2 separate regions of the Homo sapiens genome follow, and region 2 is linked to region 1. The links come from fine-mapping of genetic effects on gene expression. A gene starts in region 1. The other region holds a variant in brackets. All regions are shown on one strand. Distances are from middle to middle.

Evidence for each region. PIP is the estimated chance that this variant, and not a neighbour inherited with it, causes the effect.
Region 2: its variant is fine-mapped to the expression of LINC01550 in blood mononuclear cells (TOPMed, PIP 0.97).

The regions. Positions count from the first base shown.
Region 1 is chr14:97,972,760-97,988,510 of GRCh38, forward strand. It overlaps LINC01550 (long intergenic non-protein coding RNA 1550), which reads right to left and starts at 5,365. Exons shown (of 3, transcript NR_015430.2): 1 at 5,218-5,365. RefSeq lists an enhancer at 5,365-5,864.
Region 2 is chr14:97,954,559-97,970,309 of GRCh38, forward strand. LINC01550 (long intergenic non-protein coding RNA 1550) reads right to left here. Exons shown (of 3, transcript NR_015430.2): 2 at 14,715-14,989. Among named protein-coding and RNA genes, the nearest start is that of LINC01550, 16 kb to the right of the region's middle. The variant A/G (reference allele first, on the strand shown) is at 9,532.

The DNA.
Region 1 (15,751 bases):
GAAACAGTTGGCTGACCTTACTACTTCCTGACTCCTTAGCTTGCTGAATTGCTATGGACCAAAAGTGAGACTAAAAGGGAGTGTAATGGAGCAGAGGGAATCAAGATTTGCATTATCAGTATGGTGGTTCTTCTTGATATTGCTGAAAACTCCATCAGGTGAGGGGCAGAGGAGGCTGTGTCTAATTATGTTTTATTTTTATCAATGAATAAGTGCTTCTCTTTCTAGAAACCCCCATTAAAAGCCAGTGAAAAAGGATCAGTTGGGACAGCGTCCCCAGACATTCTTCACTTCCCATCCCCCATAGGCACTGAGTGCTTCCTGAGTGAAACATGGCATGTGATATTCTTCTCTCAATTGTCCAGGTGACAAGGCAGTTATGTCCCTTGCAGGGTCATGACCAGGACAGAATACCATACATGGATCTCCCGAATCCTCCCTGCTTGGGGTTGGCAGCCTCCTTTTCACTGCTGTGATGGAAACAGATGAATAAATGAGCTAGAAACCATGGACCATCAAAGAAGCTGTCATGACTTAATGATGACTGAATCATTTCTCAGATGAAGAAAATGAGGCATAAGAGTTAAAAGTTAATGCGTTACAGGTCACGTCTCAATCTTGGTCTCCATAGAAGTGTATGTATATTTCTGGGTAACTGTTTACACATTCCTCTCCTCCATGTGCTGTGAACAATTGGCAGAAATGGTCTGTCTTCCAACTCTGGATCCCAATGCTTCATAGTGTTGGCACACATAGACTGACTACGATCTCATAGCTACACATGCTGCTGAATGAGAGGCTATTGTTTGTCAGGCATTTTACTGGTCCTGGCATTTGAGTAATGATGTTAATCACTTTTATCTAGTTCCATCTCCAATTTCACGTTGCATTTGTTGTTCATTTTAATCCTCTCTTCCTTGTGAAGAAGACAGTATTATCATCACCATTTTTGCAAATGTCGTAACTAGGAACGTAAGAGTTTAAAACCTGCCTTAGTTCACGAGGCTACTAAGTGGTAGATGAGAACTTGAACCCCAAACTACTGATTCTGAATCTTAAATGGATGTGCACAGCTACCAAGATGAAGAGGACCCCATCTGCACCCTCAGGAAGGTTCTAGTCTCAGAGAAATGGCCTCAGAAAATAAACTGAGGGATGTGCACTCCACTCCTTTATTCACTGGGGTCTGCCCGTGGGTTCCAGTCTAAGGGTTTGCACTTCTGAATGAGAACAATGTCCTGTTTGGGGGAGGAAAAGCAAATAGACAGGCCTGAGAAGTGGTTCAGTCATCGTCAATGTCATGACTGCTTCTTTGATGGTCCATAGTTCCTAGCTTGTTTATTCATCTCTTTCCATCACTGTACTAAAAATGAGTCTGCCAACCCCAACCAGAGAGGGTTCAGGAGATCTGTGCACAGTATTCTGTCCTGGCCACGACCCACCAGGGAGCAGGCAGGAATTAAGTGATGCAAAATGCTGGTATGAAATATTGCCATAATTGCTTTCTGGAAAACAACAAGCTTAATTCCCAGTAAAACGGCATTAGAATTTTCCAGGCTCTCAGACGGGGAAAATAAAATGCCCTTCCTAGAAATTTCTCATGCTCTGTGTTTTCTACGAGATGATGAAGACTCTGTAGAGGATAATGTGGAAGGTTTTGGAATCTATGCTCATTGCCCTGTTTCATCAAATGTATGTGGGACTCTTCTCAAACAGACAAAAAAACTCCAAAGCCCAGGCTGATACATATTTTAAAAATTTCTATGAGAATAAAAAATGGCCCTAGAGTCTCTCAGCCTGAGTTCCATCCTGTCACTTAATAGCTAGGCATTGTTGAGTGCCTTACTTAAGGTAGAAAGCTCTGATTTTGTTGTCTGTAAAAATGAGACTAATACTAGAATTTTCCTCATAGATCTGTCAGTACCTTTTAATAAGTTATTCCAGATTAAACACTTAGCCTTGTGCCTGATACAATACATGTTGGCAATGATCTTAACACTTTTCTGTTTCTCTTCTTCTCTTAGCTGATATGTTGAGACTGAGCTGTTTTACTTCAATGACCCTTTCTTCTGTGCCATCACTTCCTTTCTGAATTCATTGAATTATTCTAAGTAGAGAATATCCTCACAAGGTGGTTTTGTGGATCCACAAAACCCTACGGTGGTTCCAGAGTAATGTCTAGTGCTGGATAAATGTCTATGGCCCTGAACTTTGCGGGGAGAGGATTGGTGAGTTGAGTCAATACGTGTTGAACTGTACAGCAAGAAAACTCAATTCCTTTCTTGTGATAATTGAAATCATTTCAATTCATTTCCTTCTTGGTTGGACAGAAACATGTTTTCAGTAGTGAGCAAATCTTGAGGGAATCCATTGACCTGAACACTCATATAATGCATGAAGTTAGTGGACAAAAAATGATATTCATCTTCAGTTAATAATAGCATTTTCTTCTGCAGCACCTAAACTTAGGGGTGGTGAGGGATACTATTGGTGCAGTCACTGTGCCACCGGCAGATGCATGACCTTTGTTGTATCTAACTATAATTGGATCTATGGTGAAATAAAATAAAAACCAACACAAGTTTTGACACTAAGATAATAAATTATAAATTATGGAAGTCTACGCCACCAAGGATCTTGTAAACAACAGGCTGGTCTCTTAGCAACAGACCAAGGAGAGCAGGTTGTTGATAGGAATGGAGCAGACAGGATTGTTTTGTAGTGATTACTACCAAACACCAGGAACTACATTTCAACACCTGCCCGAGGCCCCATCCCTGCCCAGCCTTTCTTTGTCCAATGGCCAGTGACCCTTTCCCACTGACCCAGATGACCAGACCCCATGGAGGGGACAATAAAGATATGGACTGAAGGATAGAGGTGGGCTGAGGATGCCCTGTGGGAACAGGAGGGAACTACAGAGGGGGCGGGAGAAATAAATACATTCTTATTTGATACTGTTTAAAATTAGGACTCTAAACGGGGAACTCCTCTTTTCCCTGCCCCCAACTCCCTTTGGTTTTAAAAATCTCACTGAGAGTGGTTGTCATGAAGGAATTTAGACAAGACTTTGACAAGGTGCCAAAATGGTTTATTTTAAAATGTTGTTCCCGAAAGCACCGGAATATTAAGTTGGAGCAAACGTTGCTTGGAAGAGCGAAGGGGTTGTGGTCACACATTCTTGGAAGAAGGGTGATGGAGATCAAGGTGTTTGTAACCTGGAATTAACAAACGCAGGTGGACCGAAGGACTCAGTCACCAGGGAGTTTTTTTTTACAAATACATGTGTAAGAGTGTGTGTGAGTGTAGGTGAGTGTGGGTGTGTGTGTGAGTGTGGGTGAGTGTGTGAGTGTATGTGTGAGTATGTGTGAGTGTATGTGTGAGTGTGTGTGTGAGTGTGGGCGCGTGTGTGTGAGTGTGGGTGAGTGTGTGTGTGAGTGTGGGTGAGTGTGTGGGTGAGTGTGGGTGAGTGTGTGTCAGTGTTTCTCAACTGCGGGGCATTTTCGGAGTTGGGGTGCAGAAGGAGATTTTCTTTAATTAATTAGATGTTTACCTCCAGCATCATCCCTCAGTGGTTTAGACAATCATCTGCCCACATGTTAGGAATGAGATTCAAGAAAGCCTCTTGGAGTGAAATTTTCCTGGAAATATCCTGATTCTTGGCGGCACACACCCTCTCCCTCTTTCTGTGATAGAAACAGCCAGTTCTGCATTATTCCAAACCACAAAGCAAGCGACATGCCATCCCAACTTAGGATATGAAGGAAGTATCAGCCCCCTAATTGCACAGGGGCCACACAGCCTGCATCTCCCTCCATCGTCCCGACTGCATGCTTTTGATTGTTTCATAATAAAAGTGGCCGGCTAAATTATGACTACTTGTGATTTATTTGCCATGTCATTTAGACTTTTCATATGTATAAATTTGCCATTTGAAAAGAAAGAGAAAATTCACTGCTATTCCCCAAGGCCTCGTTTTTGGGGAGCTCCTCTAACATCATGAACAGAGGCTTTGTGACTTCTAAAGTGATTAGCTCCTATCCGGAGGTTTTGGAACATATCTGTGCTCAGAAGCAGTCTGCCGGGGTGAAATTCTATCTGGAATAGTGTCCTAACCCCATCGGAGAGAGACTCTGAATTTTTAAAACGCCTGTTAAGGACCCCTGGGTATGAGCCCCGCACAAACATGTCTGCGGCACCCACAGCTGTGCCTCAATGAAGGCCCAATTTCTCCATTGCACAGATGAAATTGCAAAGGCCCAGCAATGTTAGCCAAATTCCCCAAGCTTAATGCCAGAGCCTGCTTCCACTCCAGGACAAAGTGGTTTCAAAGTCCATACTTGCCCCACCCTGGTGGCCTGCCCTGGGGAAGGTCACTGCCAAGAAGGCTCCTGGGCCGTCTTGCAGCTGCTGCCTCTTCTTTTAATTACGAAAGAAATGCATCATCATGAAAAATCAACAATACACAAGATATAAAGTTAAAAGGCAAAGTCCCCCCTCATCCTCTCTCTCAGCCCCTCAAGTATATTAGAAGATCTTTTTAGGGTTGAATTTTCACTCTGCAGGAGGGTGTTCTGTATACAAAGAATACGACCCTTTCTTCCTCTTTAATTTGCTTATAGCTGGTACATTTCAAAAAAAAATAAAAAGTGACCCATGCCTTTGATGTTTTTTTTTTCCCCTTATTTTTGTCAACATATTGTGGAGAATGCTGAGTTCTTTGAATTGTTTTTCCCTCTGACAGCAAATCACCAAGATGTACTTTTCCAGAGCCTAACATCCTTGAATTCACAAAAGTTCCAGTCTGGAGTCATAATGTGGAACGTAAGCAGTTCTAGTCAGTTCTGATCTTGGCAACATGAATTCTCCCCTTTCCCCGGGGAGACTCAGAAACCTGCATTTTCACAAGATTTCCCAAGTGACATGTGTGCACAACAGGGTTTGAGAAACCCTGTGCTGGACTCAGCTGCTTCAGAGAGAAGACACAGAACAATTGCCAAGCTATCAAAAAAAGCTCAGACTGACAGCAGAGAACTCAATAGAAATGCCCCATCCGACTGTTGAAACTCAGGCCCAAACTACTGCAAGAGAGTGGAGAACTGTTTCTCCTCTGAAAAGGCCCGATTTCGACTAAATGAAAGCAAAACTGTAGGGACCATTTCCCACCTAGTAGCTTGAAGCCCTACCCGGTCACCAAATTGGCCTAGCTGGTCCTACCTGCATTTGGTAAGAGCCGGGGATTGGGACGAGGCAGAGAGCAAGACCAAGCTGGTTTCCTCTCCGGTTTCCTCCGGGGTGGCTGGGTCCCAGGTCCTGCCCCCGCCTCGCCCTGTGCAAGCTCGGTGCAGTGCAGCCCCTCCGGCTCTCGCCCCACAATGCCGTGCGCAGGCTGGCAGCAGTTCAGCTGAGGACTAAACGCTTGGCTCAAGTTCAACACGGCTGCCAAGATTTGGCAACCAGAGAGTTGCAGGGAAGCAGCAGGCTGCTAAACCCTTTCACATTTTTAATTAGATCCACACACCCATGTCTTTGAGCTATCATAAATATACAGATGACATAGAGAGTATTATTCGGGGTTAAAAAAAAAAAAAAGGAAGCAAACTCTACTAAGGTACAGCTTACCTTATTGAAATAATTTCCCTATCACTAGTTTGAGGGCTGAGGAGGAAAAAGAGAAGGTAGTGATATTTGCTTAAGTAGAACCACATCTGACAAGGGAATCTACCCAGGATCTGGAAAACACAGGTCTCGGCTGCCTTGCTATCTTCCTGGGCTTCGAGAATATCACCAGAAGAGGGCATTCTTGGCGCCGGCTCAGCCCTGTGCAGCCCGGAGCTGGCAGGCAGCAGTGCTGGAGGAGTCATCCCTCAGGCCACTCCCACCTCCCGTTCTTGGGGATAGCTTTAATATCGCCACGGAGCAGAGAGGTTCTCTCCTTCGCCCTAAATGCAGCAACTTTTATACTCCATGTTGCCTTACTATTCTTCTCGTTTTATTTCCTTCTCTGGATTGTTTTTGGGTATCTTCCCCTGGAAAACAATTGCAGATGCTTCTAAATTTTTCTAAGTCCTGTGCCGCAACATGCTCAGCTTCTTCCCCTCAGAACCAGCCTTTCCCCTTGCACTCAGCCCCTGGGCGATTCTCCCTCCGGGGAGGAAAGAAGATTCAACTCTTGATTCAAATGCTCCGGATTTCACTCTGGTTTCGCTGTGTGGCTTTGGACATAGGATTTAAAGCCTTCACGTTGGTTCCCTCATCTGAAAGATCCCAAAGCAATTCTGGCCTCACAGAGTGGCTCTGGGGTTTAAATCCTATGTACAAGGCTCGTAACACAGTCAGCACCCAACACTGAATATTCGATAGAACATGTGCCTTGTAGACAGTCAGCTAACAAACAACTCCACCAAAACAACAGTGCTAGTCCTTAGTCTTCTTCTTCCCTGAACTGCTTCTCCTCTTGTTTGTGACAAAGGCCACCCATGTTTCTCAGACAACTAACCCTAGTCTGATCAACTTGCCGTAAGATGAGAGTGAGCCCATGCATTGGTGTGCATGCCCTTAATTTAAAAGACATGTTAAAAAGGAAATGAAACACTTGAAATGCAGGAAAGAAGTGCCTCTGGTTGTCCCATCTGAGAGCACAAAGTTTATAAATAGAACCATCACAAGCATCAAACACGAGCTGTGCTAAGGCATCAAACACACATACATACACACACACGCACACACATGTTTGTGTCCTTGGCTTATGGTGAACAATTTGTACACCTTTCAGTGGCCCCCGCAGAAAACCAGAGCTTGTAGTGGACACTTGGCAGCATTTGGTCTTTTCCTCATCCTTCCTTCATTTATTTTTTCTTCACATATGACTTGAAAATAGAGCATGTTTTACTGTGGCAAAATTCCCTCTATACTTGACCTGCAAACAGGACAGTCAGGCTAACTGGGATGACCTGGTCCAATGAAGTGGGCTGGAGACAATTCTACGCCCAATAGGCACCTTTCAGCAGATGGAAAGGGTGAGGACAAACAGGTTGGTGGGCCTCAGCACCTCATCTTTTCCTGTAGTCTCTCTTGCTCCCCAACACCTCACTATCTCCCCCAATCCCCAGGTACAGGGGATTTCCTTTCACTAGAAGAAGAAAGGATACAAGCTTCTTATGCACGTGTGCACACACGCACACCCATTCATGCTCACAGACACTGAAACAAGACCCTTACACCAGGACTGTTCCACTTGGAATACAGAGAGCAGTAATGGCTCCCACAGCCATGAAGACCCAGGCTGAGTCCCACTTGCCTCTATGGTCCTGATCAGGCTCTGACAGGGAGCACACTGCTGCTCATGATTAGTTATTTATACATGAGGAAGCAGCAAATTTCTATGAGAGTAAAGTAAGATATGATCCACATCATGCTTTCCTGGAGCAAAAAGGGTCAAGCTGAAGCCGGTCTCATTCTCTGAGCTATCGTGGGCTGCACCTACACGTCCTTCCCACAGACGCATTGAAGGAAACGGGCCCTGTGACACCCTGACCCTTTCTGCACTTTATGTAGGGTGAAGGAGGTAGGCTGGGAATTAATACATGCACTTCATGTATTTAAGGGCCATTCCCTAATAGTACTCTGAGACTTCCTGGGAAATATTATTAACTCAGGACTGACATGTATTAGTCTGCTTGAGCTGCTATAACAAAATACCACAGACTGGGTGACTTAAATCCCAGAAATGTATTTTCTCAGTGTTCTGGAGGCTGACAAGTCCAAGATCATTTCTGGCTGGCCTGGTTTCTGCTGAGGGCTCACCTCTTGTCTTGTAGACAGCCACATGGCCCTCCCTTGGTGTGTGTGCCTGGGGAAATAGCATTCTGGTGTCTCTTATAAAGACACTCATTCTATCATATCAGGACTCTACTTTTATGACCTCAGTAAGTCTTACTTCCTTCGAGCCCCCATTTCCAAATATGGCCATACTGGGGTTTAGAGCCTCAGGATATATATTTGGAGGGATAGAAATTTTCAATCCATAATAAAAGCATTTTCGTACTTTTGTGCATTTTGTACTTTTGGAAGGAGATGGAGTCAGATGGAAATTCTGCTCACTCCGCCACCCACTAGCTGTGTGGCCTTGTATAAATCTATTAACCACTCTGAGTCTTATTTTCCACTTTTGAAAAACAGGGGTTAAAAATGCTTTCCCTAGAGTGTGATTGTGAGTAATAGGTTAGAGTAATATATACACAGTTCCCGGCCAAGGGAGGCACTCAAAAAATGCAACAGCCATAGTGGTAGTTGATACCATTATTTATTATTTGATGTTATTATTTGTTAAAACCACCCAGAGAGTGTTGCCTGAAACACTGGCTTAGAGCTTTGCATCCCAAATGTTCTCTATACTGCCGTTTGCATCTGTTTATCACCAATGCTGACATGAGTCAATGAAGCTCATAAGGAGTGTGACCGTCTGTAATAATATCTTCCATGGGGTCCAGAGGAAACAAACATGCGCACTTCCAGAGAACTGTGTATAAATATTCATATCACTTTACGTTTAGGGCATTTTGCACTAGTTGTTGATACCATTATGCATTTAGCATGGTCATGACAATCAGGTTTGAAACTCTTGGTTAAAGCGAAAGTCTTGCAAGAAAACATAAATGTGGCTGCATTACACTTGGGGAGACTAAACTTGAGGGAGCCAAAGATTGGAATTATGCAGTTTCAAAGGCCATACCCTGAGCTTCACAATCCTGCCTGAGTCAGCAATTGCAACAATAATGCTGTATAACAAATCATCCCAGCTCAGATGCTTGAAAGACTAAGTATTTCTTCTCACGCTCATTGGTTTCTAGGTTTACTGTGGTTCTGTTGAGCTAGACTTGTCTCAGCTGATCAGCTCTGCTGCAGACTGCATGTCTCCTGAGCATGGTTTTAAGCTATAGATTGGGTTCTCATCCACTCAATGTGTATTTGTTCTGGGATCCCAGCTTAAGGGGTGACAGCTACCTCAGACATGTTATAGCCTAAATGCAGAGAAGAGCAAGCACATCTAAGGTCTCTGATTGCATCATGTCCACAGGCACTCCAGTGGTTAGGTGAAGCCACATGGCCAAGCCCAACCTCAGGAAGTAGGGAAGGAAATTCTGCACGGTAGTATTGGGGAAGAGGGGAATGAGTTTTAGCTGACAAATAATCCAAACTATTGAGTACCCTGCAAACAACAGCATACAGAAAACTAGAATAGCAGCAACCACCATACCTTCTTTATCAGCAGAATGCTAATTCCCTTTAAGGCATCTCTAATGGTTGACAGCCAGCAGCCATTCTGACTGGTCAAGTGTCAGTTTTGCTTGGTAGTGCCCTAAACTTAATAGCTTTAAAATAGCTTGACTATCACCCTGGATTGTCAGTATCTACAACGATACCAGCAAACACCAACTTCCTAGGGCCTGCGATATCAGCACCAATGAATTCCACTCAGAACCCCCAAAATTCTAAAGACAGGGTCCTAGCACTGCTGAAATTGTGATGTGGATACAGGTTTCAGAGTGAAGGAGCTAGGAGTTTAATAATATCTCTGATGCTTCCCAAAAATGTGGCCCTGGGCAACGACATGATCTCCTGAATCTCAGGTCTTTAGTGGGGTTGCTTGTGGTGCTGCCGTGAACAGTAAACTACTGGATGCGTGGAAATCAGCCAACACAGGGCCTATAATTTACAGTGTGCACCCACTAAATGATTACTCTCTTCTTGCTTTACTATTAGCTTGAATCTTATGGAACTGTCAGAAATAATCAAGAGTTGGCAATTCCATACAGTTCAACCTAACAGGTAATAAAACCCTTATGGGCAAATGTAATATTTTGTATAACTCTATTCCTTGCAATCCTGGTTCATTCCTCATCTGTGGAAATGAAAGCCAAGGATGGGAAATGCCCAATGAAGATATGGCCAAATGTTGAATGTTGTAGCAGAACGGACACCCCCTGTGTTAGTATCACTCCAGTGATGAAGATGGAATGGTGGGGTTGTAAAGAGGTATAGACAGATAGAGTATAGATAAGTGAATCTACTGTTTATCTGCTTTCCTACCACCAAGGTAGGACGTGTCAAGTAAGAGCAATGGTATAAGGAAGGGTGGGTGTTCTGCAGAAGTTCAAGGGGCTGGGAGGCCACAGGAGAAAATCTGTGCCCATTTTATGGTGTGCAGAGAAGATCGTGTAATTTGAAATTAAGCAGATATGGGGGTTTTAATGTCAGCTCTTCCAAAAACATGCATAAAATCTTGGGCAAGTCACTAATTTCTCTGAACTTTTCACCTATGAAAATGACATAGTTCTCACAGGAACGTTGCAGGCCTCATAGCGATGGTCTAGCTATCAATATCTAACAGAGAGCTTGTTTTCTGGCAGGGGGTGGGAGGGCTCAGCCATCTTGGTGACACATCACTATCCCATTTTTTTTTCTCCAGGCTGGTCTTGAAGTTGGGGCAAAATGAATGCCGAGCAACAAAATTCTAGGGTGTCTAGGTCTTCTTAGTGCAGACTTTAAAACTGTACCAAAGGGATTTGCCAAGAAACTCGCTGTCATTTCCAGAGCAAGCTATTTTCATTTCCCCCACTGGTGCTATAGCAGCCGGAAACTTTGCTGCAGTCCTGCCCTCTGGACACCATCTAAAAGCACAAGCAAGCTGTAGACATGGGCAGTGACTGGGTATCCAAGGAAGACAGTCATATATACAATAATGACTGAAATTAATTTGTCTTATCCCTTCTAGGCCAAGGGATAAAACAAGAGAAAAGCAGGGGGAAAGAAAAAAAAAATAACAAGGGAAAGGCCCTAAATGAACTTCAGGATCAAAAATAGATCCTCTCTAACATTAGTAGAAGACGGTAATGTTATCTATTGTGTGCACCTTTAGCCAGAATAAAGCATTTAACAAACAACATTTATTGAGTTCCTACTCTGCGCCAGGCACTATACCAGCCACAGGAACCAACATTGAAACAAGCAAGATGCCTGCATCCCAAAAGCCTCATTCTTTTTGCCCAAACAGAGGGGAAGGAAGATCGATTCTATGGGGGTCTTGTTTCCATCTGAGGAATGAGGGTCAAGGATGGGAAATACCCACTGGAAATACATCGAAAGCATCTTGCCATCAAGACGTCTGTTAAATGAACAGCAATTAGTAATACCACGTTCTTTTTGTTCCTTCTACATGCTCAGCATTATCCTAGAAAATGCAGGGAGAAGGAATAAAATATAAAGTCTTGCTGCTCCTCTCCAGAATTTAAACTCTAGCTCAAGAGATTGGATTACCACCTGTGCAGAAATTGCAAAGAAGACAAGAAAATACTGACTTTATTTATTTTCATTTTAAACAGAGTTCATCTCCTTGGACTTCCTTTTGGGAAACTGTTTAAGGAACTCACATACAATACATTTAAACAGCTAATGGCCAGGAATAGAAGTTCAATACATAAACAGGAGAGCATGTAGCATCAGCTAACCACCAGGTTTTTTGTACTTACTCTATCTGCACCCCAATTTGCTCTTGAGCTCCCTGGCAGCCAAAGCAAAGGGAAAATATGGTCAATTGCAAATGTTTGCTTTTATTTTTGTTTTGTTCTTAAGAAAGAGGACACAAAACAAATCCTCTGGAAGATCTAGTTAGCATCATGGATAAAGTCCAAAACACTTGCTTTTAGAATAAATGCATACCTAATTTCATAGGATTGTTTTCCATAATGACTCTCAATAAAACTCAAAGATGTAACAAAACATTACTTCCAAGTAGGTGGTTTGTCAAGGGGCTACAAAAAATGGTTGAAGTCTATATCTTTCCAGGGATCTAACTCGATAAAAGAACTTAACTCAGCACAGCAACTTATATGAGTGGATAAATAACAGGTGCCTCCCGCAGTCTTATCATTTCTCTAAAGATGGGTTTTGTTGGAAAGTAGAAGATCTGAGATTATGCTTTCTTGTGGGCACCTAGATAAATGGTAATCTGTGTTTCTAACTGATGGAAAACCTACACAGTTTGTAAAGCAGACAAGTGGATGATATGTATAAAAGTATATTATAGAAAAATTGACTGGGCAATCAATCCATTAATGAATCCAATGGCTATCCATAGACCACCATCTTAGTCATTCAAATATCTGAGGCATAGCCAGTGGTATTCAGTAGGTGCTCAGTAAATGCTTTTGAATTGAATTCCTAGGAAATGAGAAGCTTAGGTGGCAAAACCCTGAAGGGCTTCACCCGTACTTGAAGATGTCTGGTGACTATCAACATTTCCAGCATCACCTCTGCCGTTTTTGGCCTTTGTGAGCCAGAGCAGGTGGTGACCGCACGATTTGCCAAGGTTAGCTGACCCCAAAAGATTGTGCAAAAACTCCTACTACATCCTGTCAAAGAAACAAAAATGATCATGTCCTTGGGACAATTACTGTCTTTGGAGCATCAGGTTTGATTCTATAATTCATGTATACTTAGCTCAAGCTCTGTCTGACACAAGCTATTTTGCCAGGCTCACTGCCTATCTCATACCCCTGGGTCTTGCTTTTAACTTTTTTTGTGAGTCTGCCCTTGACGACCAGTTCTACTATTATCCCACCTCAAGGGGATGATTCGCCATCTAAGGAACAGTGTATGTCTGTCTTGTTGCCCATCATCCTCCCCCTTTCCTGTTCAGAGATCCGCATGGCCTTCCTGGACTATTGAAACACAATCCTTCCTCCATCTTCCAGGCAGCTACTCCAGCCCTGCTGTCAACATTCAAAACCAACCATGGAACATCACTAATGGGCATCCAGTCAACTCCAGGACCAACACCCTTTGTGATCTTCTCCACTGACCACTCCTTTCTTCTCCCTCTGTCTTTCAGCAACTGGTGTTTGCTGTATATTGTTATTTTGGAGTTAGAATTCATATATAACAATTCACCTCTCTGAAGAGGCCATTTATTTCTGGCCATTTATCTAAAACAGCAGACCACACTCTGCCCCATCACATACTTTAGTTTTCTCCTCAACAGTTATTTGTACTTGAAATTATGCCATTTGTTTATTGGCTGTCTTCTTTACTAGGATATGAGCTCACAGAGATCAGGAACTTCACAGTGCCCCCAGAGCCTGGGACCAGGCCTGGCTCACTGTGATCTCCAATGAATGAGTGAAGGAATGAAGGAATGAATGAACACCTCCTCACATAGACTATGCTGTATTTTATCTCTTTACCTTTGTGTTTTGTTATTGTTGGTTCCTTGCTTTGCATTTGTTCAAATCATTACCCTCTGCCAAAAAAATAAAAAAAGTTTATTCGTCTATGTGTCCCTTATTTTAAACTTTGGGTTAGATATCAGATGCTGCCTTATTCAGAAGCTCTCCTAGCCACTTCTGCAGTTGTCTCTTCTCTGAGGGCCCACAGTCCCCTCTGTTTGTTTATTTGTTGGTGCATTTGCTCCTTGGAACTGTAATTGTCCATCTGTGTCACTATTCCCCTTAGGAGACATTTTCTCCTTGAGGTCCCTGACTAGAGCTCACTCATCTCCATGGTCCTTGTGTAGAGAACAGTGCTCACTGTTCTAGCTTATCAAATTTTTCATAGCTTATGTAGTTAATACTCTATGTTGCTCATGTTAATGTATTAGACACCATCTACTCAAACCATCATCATTACCACCGTTTCATATGTGCTGAAACTGAGGCTTGGAGGAGGGAATGGCTTGCCCAAAGTCACAGTGCTCTATGCTGGTGGCTGTACTCTGGATCCCAGACCATTGGCCTCCAGTCAAATAGTCACCTTCAAGACATATGACCATCTGGTGGATCCCTAATTTTTTTGGCAATTAAATCTGACCTTTCTATCAGTGCGGTAAGCTTCCTGAGGACAGAGAGTGTCTTCCACCTTCCTTGTATGCATTTAGGGAATGGAGCTGTGCTTTAAACATAATAAGCAGTTAATAAATATGTGTGGGCTGAACTATTCATTTGATAACAAACTGCTAGAGAGTTTTCTGCTTGGATGCATAAACATAAACATACACAAGGGGATATATTTAGCCATTTTCTTGCTGTTTTAATTTTATACGTGTTGCATATGTATTTCTACCAGCTATATTGGCTTCCTCTTAGAAGTAGAAAAGATAAGAATCAATTAGTCTCTCAATTAATCAATCATGTTTTTATCATTTACTGTCCTTTACAGTAGAAAATCTTGCTGAGTTGTTTGTTTTGTTTTTATTTTTATAGTTTAGCAAAATGGATGTTACTTTACCTCTGTTTAACAATTAAGAAAGAGAGACCCCTGAAATGTTTCCCCAAAGGCATGGCCAACTGGGGAAGACTGAGGAAGTGCATGAGTAATGGGTCCCCGACATGGATGCCAACAAATAGTGTTGGATTCTATATTTTGAAGCTGAAACAAGATTCAGAATAATTTTGGCCAGATGTCAACAACTTTTTCCTCTTTTCTTTTTTGTAATGGGGCAGATAGTGAGTATTTCAGGCTTTGTGGGCCTTAAACAGTCTTCATCATAGCTACTAAATCTTACTGCTGTAGAGCATCAATAGTCATAGACAATATGCAAATGAATGACCATGCCTGTGTTCCAATAAAACTTAATTTATGGACAATGAAATTTGAATTTCACATAGTTTCTGCCATGTGTCATGAAATATTATTCTTCCTTTGCTTTTTTTTTTTTAAGTTTATTCTTAGCTCCAGGGCCATACAAAAAGAGGAGATGGCTGAATTTGCCACACAGGCTGTAGTTTGCAGAGCCCTGATCTAAGAGCACCTCCCTTTCACCTTGAAAAGGAAAATGGAAGAGGAAATTCGGATGGCGAAATCATGGCCAGGCTCCATCAATAGCCCACTCCTTCTGGTCCTCCATGTTTCTGTCCAGCGCATGGGATCTCCTTCAGTTCTCTATCTCCTTATTGTAAATAGCTGGGCATTTAGTAAATAGAAAACAAATTTCTGGATTAACTGATAACAAAAATACCTTTGCAAGCCAGTGCCAGCAACTGCCAGATTGTTCTTTGAGGCAAGCAAGGCCCCCAGAGGATTCTAGGTACACACCTTCCACATCTCATCAACAGCCCAAATGGAAAAACCTCCTTCCTACGTGGAGGTGAGACCCCCACACTGGAAGGGTGGCGGAACTCAAGCCAGAGCCCCAAGGATCTGATTGGCAGACGTCTCTGATCCACAAAGTTCTTTTAACTGACGCAGCAAATGACCTTGAGCTCGAGTAGAAAAACAACGGGCTTCTAGTACATCCCAATTTGCTCCTCTGAGTAAAGTCACATGAAAAGACATATCTAGCAGGTGGGGACTCAGGAGATGTACCCTCCAAAGAAGCAGGATATAAGGGGTGACAAAAGACTCCTTAGCCAAAGTCAATGCATTTTAATACAATATTTAAAAAATCAAAATTAATAATGAACATCTAGACAAAGGAAACATCAAAATTTTAAATAAAGTCAAGATTGAGTACTGTACATGCTTGTCTCCCTGGCTTCATAATAATATTCCCTGTAGTTCCTGCCTTTATTGAAAAATTTTGGTTTTTTTAGCATAGATTTTTTTACAATCATTTTGAATTTTGGAAATACGGAATTGTTCAGAAAACACTGTACAGAATGTAAAGGAGGCAAAAGGAGACTTATATAGTTTTATCTTTAAAGAAGACACCAAAAACACACTTACTTGCCCGAACACAAAGAATCCAACTGTGACC
Region 2 (15,751 bases), 18 kb before region 1:
CTGGTCAACATGAGGATGACCAAGCAAGAGGCACCTTCTGTGGGTATGAAGTGATCCAAACTAGAACCTGACTGAGCCTAAGTGGGATGTAGTAGTTATGAACTCTGACTTTGAGGTCAGACAGAAAATGGGTCCCAACCTCAGGTCTGCCCTATTTTAACTATGTGTCCTTGGACTTAGTTTGGCTATGCAAATATTTCTGGGTTTGAATTTTCTTTTCTGCTATAAAATGTAAGATCAGGTAAAGTCTGAAAAGCACTTAGCTCCCAGCCCAGCACATAATTCCTGCTGAACACATGTGAGTTTTGTCATTATCATCACTATTATTGTTGTTATTACTATCATCATCATCATCTGTATTTACTGAATGAGAGAAGCCTTCACAATAAAAGGGATAATCAAAAAAGATTTTGAAAGACAGCTAGGGTGTGCCAAGGTACCTGAAGGCAGGAACTCGTCCCAGAGAAAAGAAAGAGTTTGTGCAAAGACTCAGAGCTATGAGAGTGAGTTGGGCTATTTTCTGGGATTGACAATAGTAAAAATGACTGGATTTCTTGATTTTTCTGGGATAAAAGGTGTTGGTGTATGGGCCTTTTGAGGATCTAAGGTGTAAAATAATAGATGGTGGTCAAACCATAAGAGCTCTTGAGTGGTATGCTGTGAAGTATTATTATTACTCTGGAAATAAGTAGAAGTTATGGACAACATTGGATCAAAGTTTAGCATGGCTGCCAGAGTGAAATCTGGGTTAGAGAGGAGCTTGGAGACACGTATGTCTAGAGAGTTCAGGAAGGATAAAGTACTCAAAGAAAGGGGCTAGCACTAAAAGCAGCCAAGAAAAAGGAATTATAAGAAAGGTGACTAAGATTTTCCTCCAAGGGCCGTAAGATGGACTTTATCCCCCTTGTAACCCTGAAAAAGCCTTTGCCTTCTTTAGTTCATGAAACAAATTCACAAGAAATTATATAATTGCAGGACTGAGTCTCAGCTGACTGCAGATTTAAAATGGTGAATTCTCTCTTCTGATGTCTCAGTTTGTTGGCCATGAGTGGACTGAATCCTATACAGCCAGGAGAATCTGCTTCCAAGATTTACCCCCCCCAGCAAATGGCATATGCAAGTCCAGATCTTTTAGAAGATCTGAAATAATTATTTGGAGAAAAGAAAGAAAAGAAAAGGAAAGGAAAGGAAGGAAAAAAATAAATGTATGATTTCTTCCTTGAGTACTAAGTTTCCTGGTTCTATTTAGAAGAGATTATAATTTAAAAATGTACGCCCCCATCTTTTCAGGAAGATTTCTACTGTATAATGTGACAGACTCATTGCTTTTAGTTTATTCAGAGCTGGTGCTAAGAATATGAAGATGAACCAAATGTTCTTCCTGCCCTTAGGGAGCCTGGTGTCCAGCACAGGACACAGACATGGAAGTGATAGATTGAAGGTTTTGTGGTGACAGGAGTGGGCACAGAGAGGAGATGCATCCTTGTCTGCCTGGGAGAATAAGACAGAGATTTGCAGGAGGATGAAGACAAGCCCTCTATGTCACAGTGGTGGAGATGCATTTGCCATATGGTGACCATACTTTCTGAATCAAAAATTGAGATACATGATCTGACACAAGGTTTGACGATGGGACAGAATTTTTGAAATCAAGGCTGTCCGAGGAAACCCAGGACATATGGTTGCCATAACCAATCATTACTGTGCACACAGGGGGCATGGTTTGATCCACAAACAACCAAAGCCAGGATTCAGGCAGACAATTTATATCAACGCTTGACTGCATATGTGGCAAACTGTATTTTCTGACCCTATCTATTGGCCTGACCATGGCTGGACACTCATTCATTCAGAGCAATCCTAAACGAAGTTGGGCATGCCGGAATGTAACAGACTTTAGAAACTACCTGGTCCAAACTGCACCTTACCATGCCAGTGGAGAAACTGAGGCTCAGAAAGGGGAAGAGACTCTCTCAAAATCATGCAGCTCCTACAGAACAGAGCTGGGTCTGGGTAATTTTCCTTCCCCTCACCAGGGCTGGATTTGAGAGACACATCAGAAAAGCCCATGAATTGAGAGAAAACACAACATGCCAGCCTTGGTGTCACTAAGGCCACAGTCAGTAGATTCACTCCCGACTAAACAACCAAAGTGTCACATTTGATGGCCTTGAGCTCAGATCTCTCCAGAATATTGATGAGGCTGCCAAGCTGAATGTGAGAATGCCAGGCTGTTTAAGACGCAAAGGAGGTTGTTGTAACACGATTTGTCAATGCCAAAGAGTTCCAAGGACTCTGAGTCTTCAACATTATATTCTACTGATCTTTCTCCATTGGTGGTGAAGCGATAATGAAAAGAGAAAGCTCATGGAAATAGACGAGGTATTCACGTATGCGCATTCGGGAGAGAGAGCTGTCTCAGCTGGAAAAGTGGAAAATCAAAAGTCCTCCTGCCTTTCCCCAAGATGGCACTGGAGAGGGAACCCACCTGAAAGCTACACCCATTGATCTTGAATCTCTGGTCGTTCTGACTTGGGAAGAGGCTGAGTTCCAGACGTACATGCTGCCAAGAAACACTTAGTGCCTTCACAGCCAAAAAAAATGTAACACGCCTGCCCAGCATGTGAGAAGGGCAAAAAAAAAAAAAAAAAAAAAAGTGGTTTTTCCTCTGGGGCTGACAAATACCAGCCCAGAACTCTGAGATTAAAATGCACGACAGACATGCTCTCCCTGATGCGGGCCTGGACTGGAGAAATAATTTAGAAGAACTGATGGAATGGCCTGTGCTTGGCTTGCATGCCTCTTCCTCTGGAATTCCAGCATAGTCCCACCTCTGGGATCCAGAGCTGGTTGTGGGCATGTGGTCTAAGCTGGGGACCACCCATGAGTTTTCCTTCCTTTCCTCTCCTCTCCTTTCCCCTCTTCCTTTTCTAGTCTTTATTTTTCTCTGTTTATCTCATTGGTTGTCTTTTGTCTTTCTTCTCTTTTGCCTTCTTTTCTCTTCTCTTCCATTTCTTCCCATCCCTTCTCTTTTCCTTCCTTCCTTCTCTTCTCTCTTTTCATTTCCTTGTCTTTCTCCCCATCTGGGGTGACATACAATAATGCAAATTAAATATAAATTGCTTTGTGCCTAGATGCTGTTGGGATCTGAGATGCTCTCCCAGCTTACTGATCGTTCTTAGCCATCCATTCATATTTTCATCCATCCACCCATCTACCCATTACCATCTCCTGCCATCCTCCCAACCAAGCATTTGTCTATCCTTCTCTTCAATTCACATCGGCAAGCATTTCCCAAATCACATATAAGCACCAGGGACCCAACAATACCCTATGACAGCAGAAATGAATATGACCTCAACCTGGAATTTGAGAAGTCACCCAGTGTAGGAGGCAAACTTATAATTATTACTTAGTAAATGTTTGATAAGGGCAGAGCCTTCAGTCCATCAGTCTATTCTGTGCAGCCTTTTTTTCTTTTTTTTTTTTTTTTTTATTTTTAGAGACAGGGCCTCGTTTTATTGCCTCAGCTGCAGTACAGTGGCACTATCATAGCTCACTGCAGCCTTGAATCCCGGGCTCAGGGGATCCTTCCTCCTTAGCCTGCCAAGTATCTGGGACTACAGGCATGTGCCACCATGCCCAACTAATTTTTTAAAAAATTTGTAGAGAAAGGATCTCACTATGTTGCCGTGAATGGTCTCAAACTCCTGGGCTCAAGTGAACCTCCTGCCTCAGTGTCCCAAATGCACAGAGTACAGGCCTAAACCACTACACCCAGCCTCTGTGTACTCTTTAGGTGAAAAGGAGTTAGTCCTTTGAAGAGGAGAGAAAACACCAACTCTCTAAGTTGAAGGAGCACATAGGAGGTGCACATAGGGTGACGACGAATTGTCCTGAATTGCCTGGGACTGAGGCGATTCCTGGGATGCAGAACTTTCAGCTTTAAAGCCAATATAGTCTCAGACAAATCATGATGGATTGGTCACATTGTGTATGCATTGGTCTGTGTGGCAGGCATAATAACAGCCACCCAAAGACGTCCAAATTCTAATTTCTGGAATCTGCAAGTATGTCACCTTATAGGCCAAGACGGACTTTGCAGATGTGATTAAGTAAAGGATTTTGAAATGGGGAGATTATCCTGTACTACAATTGTCCTTATAAGGGAAAGAAAGAAGAGGGTGAGAGTCAGAAAAGGGAGACGTGCTATGGTTGCAGAGGTTAGAGTGATGCAGTTGCTGGAAGTGCCCCACAGCCAAAGCAAGCAGGTGACTTCCAGGAACTGGAGAAGGCATGGAACAGATTCTCCCCAAGGGCCTTCCAAAGGAACACAGCCCTTCTGACATCTTGATTTGAGCTCCATGAGACCCATTTTGGGCTCTGACCTCCAGAACTTTAAGACAACAAATGTGTGTTGTTTTAAGCCACTAAATTTATGGTAATTTGTTACAGCAGCAATAGCAGACTAATACACTCTGCTTTCCAAAAAATCCCCCAAAGACTTGAATGCAGGTTGCTTTGCTGCCTTTCTATTGCCCCAGGGCAGATTCTGGTTTCTCCCAAAATACCATTCCTTTATTAATGAAGGAGGCAGTGTGGGAAGTGTTGAGAGCACATTGAAAAGCAACCATTTACTGATCATCCAGGTTAAGCTGGAGCACTAGAGTGGGAATTCAGATGCTTCAGCTGCATGTCTGGCTCTGCCTTTCCTTGCTCTGTCAGCTTGGTCTACCTCTCTGGAATCTCTGGTTCTTACTTATCTCTAAAATGAACTAAATAACATAGAATTATCATCTCAAATTTATAAACTTTGGTAACATTCTTAAGTGATCATGCATTCGTAATGTGTTTGTGACTGACTCCAGAGCATATGCATTTTTGGGGGGTGACATCACACCCAAGAGGATTAAAATGGATTCTTGGATGGGGGGCTCTTACTGTTTCTGTGTTTTAGAAACAGATGTACAGATGATACATAACCGAATACACAGTATACCTGTGGTATGGAAGGTTCATGGGGTGGTGACAAGGAAAAGTGTCCAACACGTCTCCTTCCGGGAGTGCTAATGGCAAAGAAAAAGGCTGAGAATCATTTGTCTAGTTATTGCACCACCTGTTGCTATTTGATAACGTGTTTTAAAGGGCATGGGAAAGATGATGAAGCAGAGGAATCTCAGGAACTTTCTGGAGTCAGATGAATATAAATCCAATTCTTCACGTGGTTGTAGATCTGTACCACTCTGAGATCAGTCTCTTTATCTGTGACGGAAGACAGAACTGTTCTCAGGTTGTTGTTGGTATTTCATTAGATAAGACAGAGAGAGATACAGATATATAGGCAAATATAAATTGTCACAGAGCCTGGCCTTCAATGATGTGTCTCCCCTTTTCTTCCTCATCTTTTTGCTCCTTACGAAACGTCATTGTGGAATCATTTCTTCACTGCTCACCCCTTACTGTTGTGCCCCCTACCTGACACTTACTTTTGCTTGTAAATTGAATCAACATATGGAAACATCTAGCTTTATTTCATTCCCTGATTAGTGGAGCGCCAAACATGTGTGTTTGATTACTCTGGAGGCCAGGGAGCAGACAGCACTGGAATAGTCTGACCCCTTTGGCCAGGGAGAAAAATTAGGCCCAAGGGGTGGCCTGGCCAAGCTGCCCCTGTGCTGTAACGTGGTCACAGGGTTTCTCGCACCTTCCATCAGGCCATGGTCCAAATGCAGGGGGAGCTGAGGGTTCAGCATGGAGGTCGTTCCACCGGGTCTGCTTGTGTTACGATCAATTTGTCTTCAGAGACAGCGCCCGTGCTTCCAGAGACAGACTTTGTTCTTACCATCCCATCTTCCCACACTATGGAGTAATAGAAGAAAAGAATAGTGTTCTATGGCCTGTTGTTGTTAGGATAAGGATTCCATGTCATGCCGTAGTGTTCCTTTAATGAACACCCATGGGGGGAAAAATAAATCTCCAGGCTCAATAGAGGGGACAGAAAGGCTTCTTGAGGACATTTTCCCTTTTGAATCTGGCGAGTATCATGCATTGGAATTCATCATGTTTCCTTCTGCGCTTGGGCTGCCAGGAAACTCAGAGCCAAATTTGTGTTATATTTCTAACATCTGTACAAAACCTTTCTGATTTTTTTTTATGTTTTTATGTTTGATTCGTTCTTTGTAACTTTATCTTCTCTGCTGCTCCTGGTTCCTTCCCAGAACCCTAGTGGGCTGACTTGCTCTCTGGGTAACTAACACCAGTGAGTATTCCCAGAAGACGACTACTGCTATTCTCCCCACTTCCCCCTTTCTGAACCCATTAAGGGTTCATAGTCCTGCCTTTTTTCACCAAATGTTAATATCACACTTAAATTGTGATCCAGAAGTCATGACCCACAAAGGACCACTTGGACCTTGCTTCTTATTTGATACCTAACTCCAGGAATTGCCTCTTTAAAGGCACTGGGTAAAAAATGATGGACCGGGCTCAAGGAAAGAAAACCCAGTCAAAGCTTAGGTGAACAAATATGTTTGACCACTTAATATAGGTATTGTGGAAGCCAAGATGCATGGACTCTCATTCCACAGCCCACAGTCTCACTGGGGTGACACACAGGGAACAGTTAGTGTAGTACAGTCCCCTAAGTGCTATGGTGGAACAGGTGCATTGGAGTACTGGAAACAGGAGGGAGATCAATGTTGCAGACCCCAGGGAATCAGGCAATGCTTCCTGGAGGAAGTGGCACTTGAGCTTAATTGTAAAAGGCAGGCAGTTGAAAACTCATGTCCACATAGAAAGTTGCACACAAATATTCATGGAAGGTTTTATTGATAATTGCTAAAATTTAGAAGCAATCAAGATGTTCTTCAATAGGTAAAGGAATGAACAAACTGTGGTACATCTGTACCATGGAATATTATTCAGCAATAATATTGATATGGAGGAGACTTACATGCATATTATTAAGTAAAAGGTGGTTAAAAATCTATATGCTTTCTGATTCTAATCATAAGACATTCTGGAAAAGGCTAAAATATCAAGAAAGTAAAAAAAAACATTAGTGGTTCTTAGGGGTTTGGTGGCAAGGAGGAAGGGATAGAAAAAGAGCTCATGAAAGAGAGAGGGAAGACCGGTGTGCAGAGTACAAAGGTGGTCAGTGAGAAAGGACATTCCAGTCGGTGGCAATAATAGAAGCCAAGGCATAATAATTGAAAATGCAGAACCTGATTCAATCAGGACAGGTCAGGCTGTGTTGCAGAAACTAAAATACAAGAGAGGAATAAGGGGGATGAGGCCAGTAAGCAAGTGGACCAGATCACAGAAACCTGAATTTTGTCCTTATGACAATGGGGAATGTTTAAAATAACTTAAGCACAAGCATGCGATGGTCACATTTATTGGTCACTGCCACCAAGAAGCTGTGGACTTAAACCCTCATCTTTGCCTCCTTCCCTTACTCCTCTTCCAAGCCCAGTCAGTGGGGAGTAACATGATCAAGTGCACTTTTTAATGTCTAGTCTGTGAATATAGTTCATCAACAGTGTCCAGGAATGATGGGGCAGCCTTGAGCCAGACGGTATGACAGTCAATAAAGACAGACCAAAAGTATAGCTCAGTGAATACAGAAGCATTTACTGGACATTTACAAAGTGCTAGAAAACTGCACATTCTCTCGTTGTCTCTCTCTCTCTCCCTTCTTTCTCTCTCCTACCCTCTCACTCTTCTTTCTGCCCCCCCGTAACAATGTTTTAAGTTTGGTTTATTATTACATGCATTGACAAAACTGAGGCTGATTGCCATGAAGCAATTTTGCCTAATGTCAGAAGAAAGTGAGCCCAGGTCATTGGGCCCCAAATCCAATGCTTTCTATTTGAACTGCTTTCAAACTTGCTATCCACCTCTATTCATCACATCTGAACTCTTCCAGCCTCTGCCAAAGAGGTCATTTCTTGGCACACTGAATCCCATTGTGGAGAGGGATAGAATAGGTGTGCCCTGGCCATCAGGTCACTACAATTATTATATATAGACTTCTGACTTGTGCATCCATGATCTCACAGCAGCACCGATTATTGTTACCCATATGTGTTATTAACAGCTTCCTAAGGCTGCTATAACAAAGTACCAAAGCACGGTGGCTTAAAACAATAGAAACCTGCTCTGTCATAGTATGAAGGCAGAACTCTGAAATCAAAGCGGCAGCAGGGTTACTTCCTTTGGGGGCTGTGAAGGAGAATCCCACCCATGCCTCCCTCCTAGCTTTGGGTGTCTGCCGGCAGTCCTTGGTATTCCTTGGCTTGCGGCTGCCACACTCCCATTTCTGCCTCCATCCTCACATGGCCTTCTTGTTTGTCGTCTCTTCTATGTCTGCGTATGTCCAATCTTCCTTTCCTCTCTCTTACAAGGACACCAGTTGTTGGGCTTTGGGTCCCATCCTAAATCCAGATGACCGCAATTACTTCTGCAAAGACCCTATTTCCAAATAAAGTCACATTCACAAGCGTGGAGATCAGGACTTGGCCTGGTTTCTTTGGGGGACATAATTTCACCTGCTACTGCATAGATGAGCAAGAGGAGTTTTTGCGAGGCTCAGTGACTCATCCCAGCACACAGCTAGGAAGTAAGGGAACATTAAGACAGAAGACCAGCTCCTTCTATCACAAATCCAGGCCCCTCCTGTCTCTAGATCTCAAAGTCATTATCTCTGAATGCAACCTTTGGTTTAGAGACGTACATACAGCATTCAGAGCCAAGAAGAATCAAGGATGCGGTCCTTGGAAAAAGAAACACCTTGGAACTTGAAAAAAGAAACACCTTTCCTTTTCTATGGGAGTGTGCTTATGATATCTTGCTGCATAACAACTACCCCAAGACTTTTTGGACTAAAACAACAAGCATGTTTTATCCCCGAGGTTTTGTGGGTCAGCAATTCCAGGTTGCTTAGCTGGGACTTCTGCATCCAGGTTATCCCCAGGCTACCATCAAGGTATCAGCTAAACCTGCAGCTATCCCAAGGCTTGGCCAGGAAAGGGTCTGCTTCCAGGCCCACTCATGGGGCTGTTGGAGGGCTTGGTTCTTCCTGAGCTGTTAGACTGAAGGTTTCAGTTCCTTGCTTGTTATTGGGTAGAGACTGTTCTCAGTGTCTGGTCACCTGAGGCCTCCACAGGGCAGCTTGCTCACTCAGTCAGAGAAGGGATGGAAAAACAAAAGCATGTCACCATCTACCATCACCTAATCTGGGACCTGACATCTCAATCATTAAGCCACCAAGCCTGTCCCACACTCAAAAGGAAGAGATTACACAAGGGTGTGAATGCCAAGAAGCAAGGATCACTGGGCATCACCTTAGAGACTGGCCACCAGACACAGCCACAAAAGTAGACCCTCCTTGTCTATGGGTGGAGTGATAGAAAGATGTGAGGAACAGAGCTATGGCAATCATTTTGCTGCAGTGAAAGGAGAGCTGGGGATTTTGAGGAAGGCATGACATGGAGCCTGAGGACAGGGCCAACACCAAGGGATACAGAAAGA[A/G]CAGACTTAGAAGAACCAGGTCCTTGATGACATGATTAAGCCTCTTGATCAGCCTCCTCTGTAGCCAGAAACCTCGGAAATGTTCAGATATAACGTGAGATAATAAATGCCACGGACAGAAAGTCCTAACAGATGCATGACCCCACATATAAATATGGGCAAGGTAGTGAAAATAACCTCCTGAGGTTGTTTGCCTCTGGATACAAGCCTTTTTTGTCATTCATTATCATTTGCTCACAGATGATTCACATCGGTACTGTGAGCTGGCCTGGGGTGACCATCCACAAGCTCAGGGCTGGGTTTCTAGCTGCATCCATATTCCCCTTATATTGAAGAACACCTTATATTTTATCAAGAGCCCCGAAGTCAAGCAGCTGATGAGGTTAAGGTCTGTCTACACCTGAGCACACAGCCAAAACCCCCAAGTCCCAGGGACTATTCATTTCACTGTGTTCGCAGGTGGGTTTTTAACAAAATTAGTAATGAGATCTTGCCTCCAAATCCCTTTTCCCTGGTGAATTCACTGGGGGAAAATCAGCTTGTCTGGGGGGAGCCTGCGTGGCCTGTTTTTTTCAACTGATGTTGAAATCCTACCATCTCCCAGCTCTGCCCTTCCACCCGCACCCACCCACATGGAGACAACTAACCATTAACTTGTCTTTTCCCATTTCACTGAAGAATTTGCGAGCACAGACTCAGCACTCACCCTCTCTCTCTGACTTCCTCAGACTCCAAACAGCACTTATAGAAAGTCAAAGTGTAATTGTGGAGATGTATTTGTGCTCTGGCCTTTTCAACATTTTGAGAATCACACACTGTGGGCTCCCCCCAGCCCTGCCCTTCTCCCTACCCCATAAACAATGTCTGACCTATAGCCTTTGAGGTAGGTTTCTGATGGGAATTGCAGATGATGGAGCCACCTTCTGCTTTAGGGACCTCCCCCATTCCCGGGTGGACACCGCCCCCCCCGCAACCTGCTCTGCTTCATGCATAGAGGGAAGAAATAACTATTCCCTGGAGATGCCGCATCTGATTCATAAGGAAAAAAAAAGGGATTTGAGGGGAAGATAATAGGAAGGATTTTGTTTTGTTTCATTTTTTTCTCATTTCACATTTTATTTGTAGAAGTTTAATGACTAGATATCAATGTTCTCTTTTATTTATCTACTTTCAAATTTTAATGAATACTTCTGGCTATAATTACCTAATTTTTATACTTAAAATGACTAGACACCTGTAGTTCAGAGCACATTGTATTCCAGCATGATGGCTTATGGTATCAAGTGCTGCATATATATGGATTAATCAATAAGCAAATTCAATTCTTATGAGGTGCAGTTCATTCTTTAAATTGAAGAGGCATTGACAACAGGAGGGAGAGGGTTTAGTGCTACTCTCTTAGGATGAGAATCTACCATGAATGTGTTCACTTCTCTGTTGTTCCTTTATTATCCAGGGAAGTGGCTTAATATTTTCTAAGAGTGGCCATTGTAAGCAGGACTCATCTATCCTTTTTTAGATGGATTTCTTTATTTTCAAGACAGTGTATGAGTAACCTGAAGAGGGGGTGGGTCTCAGTGCCCCCTCAAACCATTCAATTCTATAAAATGCCCAAGAGGTAAACATTGGAGGACTCCACTTCTAATAGGTATGGAAAATACAATTCTACCCTCTCTAGATGTGGGTCCTGATAAGGCTAGAAACCTCAGCTTTTAAAGTCATTGGTACTCTTTGGTATAATGACAACCACTATTGGACTAGGTACCAATTTTAGGGCCTGTGTCTGAGGCACTATGCCAGGTGCATCACATACAAATTCTAGTCTCACAGCAGAGTGTGAACTGATATCTTCATTCTACAGATAAGGAGGCTCAAGGTGTGACAGACCATATCACATGTGAAAGTCATGTAGTTAAACCAGGAATATCTCATATCTAAGCATTTTTTTCTGCCCACTCTATTACATTAATTTATTGTTTCTCTCCTTTAATTTCTTTCCTTCTGGAGTACTCACACTAACCCTTCTCATGTTCTGTTAGAAGCAAGGCTCATTAGAATAAGAAAGGCAATTGCTTGAACCTCACCATCTTTTGCTGGAGCTTACAGAGAGGCAGTCATGGACCTCTTGAGACCAGGAGGCCCAGGTACAGGTGATAAGAGCCCAGCTGAGACCAGAAAGGGCAGAAGGTGAGTGACTAATGGACTCCCACCACCCGCCTACTGGAACCCTGGGGGCCTGGAGGTGAGGAATTGTGAGCTAGACTAAAAGAGCATTTTCAATTATCCCAGGAGAGAAGTGTTTAGACAGGACAATTAGGTCATTTAAAGTGACCATATTTTCTGTTAGAACCAAGGGAATTCCTAGTTCAGCCTGCCCTGGCTTTCTTAACCTCACTGGGTAAAGACATTGATGAGGGAAGAGAGGAATCTCCCCACAGCCTGGTGGCTCACAAGGTGTCATCCGAGACCTCTGTGGAGGGTTTACAATCAGGGGAGGCTTGTGGGACAAGGTGCACAGAGTAGGTGAGGATTCATTGAATGCAAACTGATGAGAGTTTTCATAATGTTAAATAGGGAAAGAAGAGGAGGGTCACAGGGGTAGGAAGGAATTGTAAGCCACAGGATGTGTAAAGGCTGTTTTGATTAGGGAAGTTTGGACCACTCTGGGTGACCCACCTCTGTGAGAAGGAGAGATGTTTGGGTGGGGCTGGTGGAGAAAACGGCACCTTGTTAAGGCCAGAAAGATGGCCAGGAATTAGCAGGGAAGAGACACGGGGAGGGCTTTCTCGGAAAAGGAGCCATAAGTATTGGTATAGTAACAGTTTTACATTTAAATTTAAAGAATGTCTTGATGGATTTTCAAGGTGAGCTTTTTAGGCCTTTCCACCTTCCAATGTCCCCTACTCCCCATTTTCCCTACAGATGAAATGATCAAATTCAAGCTGCTATGGCATTTGACTTTCAAAGCCCAATACATTTCATTCCTTGTTAACCTGTTTATTCATCTCTTATAAATACTCTTTCCACCCCCACCCCAGTTTCACCTGGAGGTCTCACACAGGAGTGCCTTCTCTCTGCTATGCTCTCTGACTGCTGTGACCCCTGTGCACCCAGGTGGGGCCACAGTCACTCCAGGAAGTCTTCTGTGCTGGCCCCACATCTTTCTCTTCTTCCTCTTTCAGCCTTCTCTGGATGCTAACAAAGCTGTTGATAGCTGTTAATGGTTTCGCTGTGTCCCCACCCAAATCTCATCATGAACTATAGTTCCCATAATCTCCACATATTGTGTCATGGGAGGGACCTGGTTGGAGGTAATTGAATCATGGGGGCAGTTACCCCCATGCTGTTCTCATGATAGTGATTCTTACAAGATCTGATGTTTTTTTTTAGGGGCTTTTCCCCCACTTCACTCATACTTCTCCTTGCTGCCACTATGTGAAGAAGGATGTGTTTCCTTCTCCTACTGCCATGATTGTAAGTTTCCTGAGGCTTCCCCAGCCCTGCAGAACTGTGAGTCACTTAAACCTCTTCCTTTATAAATTACCTAGTCTCAGGTATGTCCTTATAGCAGCGTGAGAATGGACTAATACAGCTGTGTTCTGAGTCCGATTTTATCTGTTTTATGGGATTGCGATAGCCCCAGCTCTGCTGTGTACTCTTGGAGCACAATGCTCTTGCTGTAGAATTCCTCAAATTCCCCAACAGACCCTAGACACCATGGATCTTTCCATAACACTCTGCAATTAAGGGCTGGTTCCCAATGACTGACTCTTGAAAAATACTAGACCTTCTTCCATTAGCAAAATGAAACAAACAATACCATTTAAACTTGACCATAATGTGTTTGAAATCTCATTTTCTCTTAACCAAATGTCCTCTACTTTTTTAGTTGAACAACTTAAACTAGAAATTTACTATACAAGTTATAAGTCTGAGGTATTAGACCTTCCTTTTTTGATTACTGGTGGCAGTCTGATTTGTTTATATAGTGCTTCCGAGTTGACAGGAAACTTCTGGAGCCATTATCACTTTTTCCTACACAAAGGACTGAAAGAGTATTTTCTCTCCATTTGACAGATGAAGAAGCTAAGGCATGAGGGAATGAGCAAAAGTAAGCCCAATATGCTGCAGGAGAGGAAGGGGATCCAAGGATACCTGACAGAAAATTTTCTGCTCATTTTAAGGCACTGGCCATTGTCTTCTTCTTTTTTTTTTTTTTTTTTTTGAGACAGAGTCTGACTCTTTCACCAAGGCTGGAGTGCAGTGGTGCAATCCTGGCTCACTGCAACCTCCGCCTCCTGGGTTCAAGCGATTCTCCTGTCTTAGCCTTCTGAGTAGCTGGGATTACAGGCTTATGCCACCATGCCCGGCTAATTTTTGTATTTTTAATATAGACGTGGTTTTGCCATTTTGGGCTGGTCTCAAACCCCTGACTTTAGGTGATCTGCCTGCCTCAGCCTCCTAAAGTGCTAGGATTACAGGCATGAGCCAATGCACCCAGCATGGCCCTTGTCTTATAAATTCTAAAAAGCAGATACTACTGCATTTACCTAAGACCATTGACAGGGAGTCTGAAAACTCATAGACATTCATTGGAGTGGAGTGAGAGGTGGGAAAGTGTGTTGTTTTGGTGGAGTGAGGCTCAGATGCATTTCTCATTCTTTCTCTTCACGTAATCGCAGCACTGTGGGAGGCCGAGGTGGGTGGATCGCCTGAGGTCAGGAGTTCGAGACCAGCCTGGCCAACACAGGCAAACCCCGTCTCTACTAAAAATACAAGAATTAGCTGGATGTGGTGGTGCGTTTCTGTAGTCCTGGCTACTCGGGAGGCTGAGGCAGGAGAATCGCTTGAATCCGGGAGACGGAGGTTGCAGCGAGCCGAGATTGCACCACTGCACTCCAGCCTGTGCAACAGAGTGAGACTCATCTGAAAAAAAAAAAAAAAAAAGAAGTAAAATTGTGTAGGAAAAGATTGTATTTCCTTCAAGCCCAGATTAAGGGTTTTGCAAAAATCAGTTTAGGAAGAAAAAGGGATGGAACAGAGCCTTCTGTAATATTTTAAATCAAAGGGGTTGGCTATAAAATATGGAGACCAAAATAACTGCTGAGAACACAATGCTTTCACATAAAATAAAAACTTGGGAAGAAGACTCCAGATAAGAAAGACTAACAGTTGGCACTTACATTTCAGTGTTATTTACCAGCAGGAAAAGACGATTTTGACTGATTGAGTTGAATGTGCTGAGTTGATGGTGAGTTCAATATGGCTGTAAAGCTCGGTACTGTCCTGGTCATTGTGCCTTCCGGGAGAGGGAGAACGACTGTGAGTTCCTGAGCCCAAAGGTGATCTTTTCTTGCTTTGTAGTTCTGAGGAGACTGCACCTGGACAAGTTGTAGAAATTTGGGCTGTGCGGTATGAGATGCATGTATGCAGACTAAAAGGCATTCAGCCAACGGATCTAAAAATAATTAAAAGAAGAGTGAGATTACCTTTCATGGATGGACACAAAGACCAAATATATGTATTTACCCTAAATGACAACAGAAGGAAACCAGAAAGATAATTGAAGGATTGTGAAGATCAAAGGGCTAGAGGATTTGCTCTTTCTGACACAAGGGTCTAGAATTGCAAAAAAAAAAAAAAAAAAACAGAACAAATGTATGATGCTAACATGTAGTTTGCCTGACAGAAAACCTTAAACAAAAACATAGTGGAGTTACTTCCCTTGGAAGAACTTAGATCTGGGGGGTGATTCAAAATCTACTCTCATAAACTGTCAAAAGTACATTGGGAAGAGAGGAATCATGTGCAATCAGTGAAAGAATAGTTTAGAGGATCTGCTAGGATAGTTCATCATTGCCTACTACGGCAATGTGACATCAAATAGGAAGCCCCAATTGTGTTGCTCAATTACATGTGTATTCAACAAGCAGAGCCTTGGGCATAGAACAGGACTCCTAAGTTTCTTACAGCCATGATAGAATATAGAGTATCTCTTTGAAACAAGCCCCTACATAAGCCTCAAAAAGAAACAAGTACAATTCAGAAGATGTGAACTCAGGGATATCCAAGAAAAGAGGATGAAAAATCAGACCGATGGGGAAAGAGACTGATATAACATTTTTTGAAGCCAAGTACTGCTAAGTTAATCCTGTAGTTGATCTCAATAAAAAGGAGGACATTAATAATCTGTCCAAAAATACATATTTCGGTGTATTTG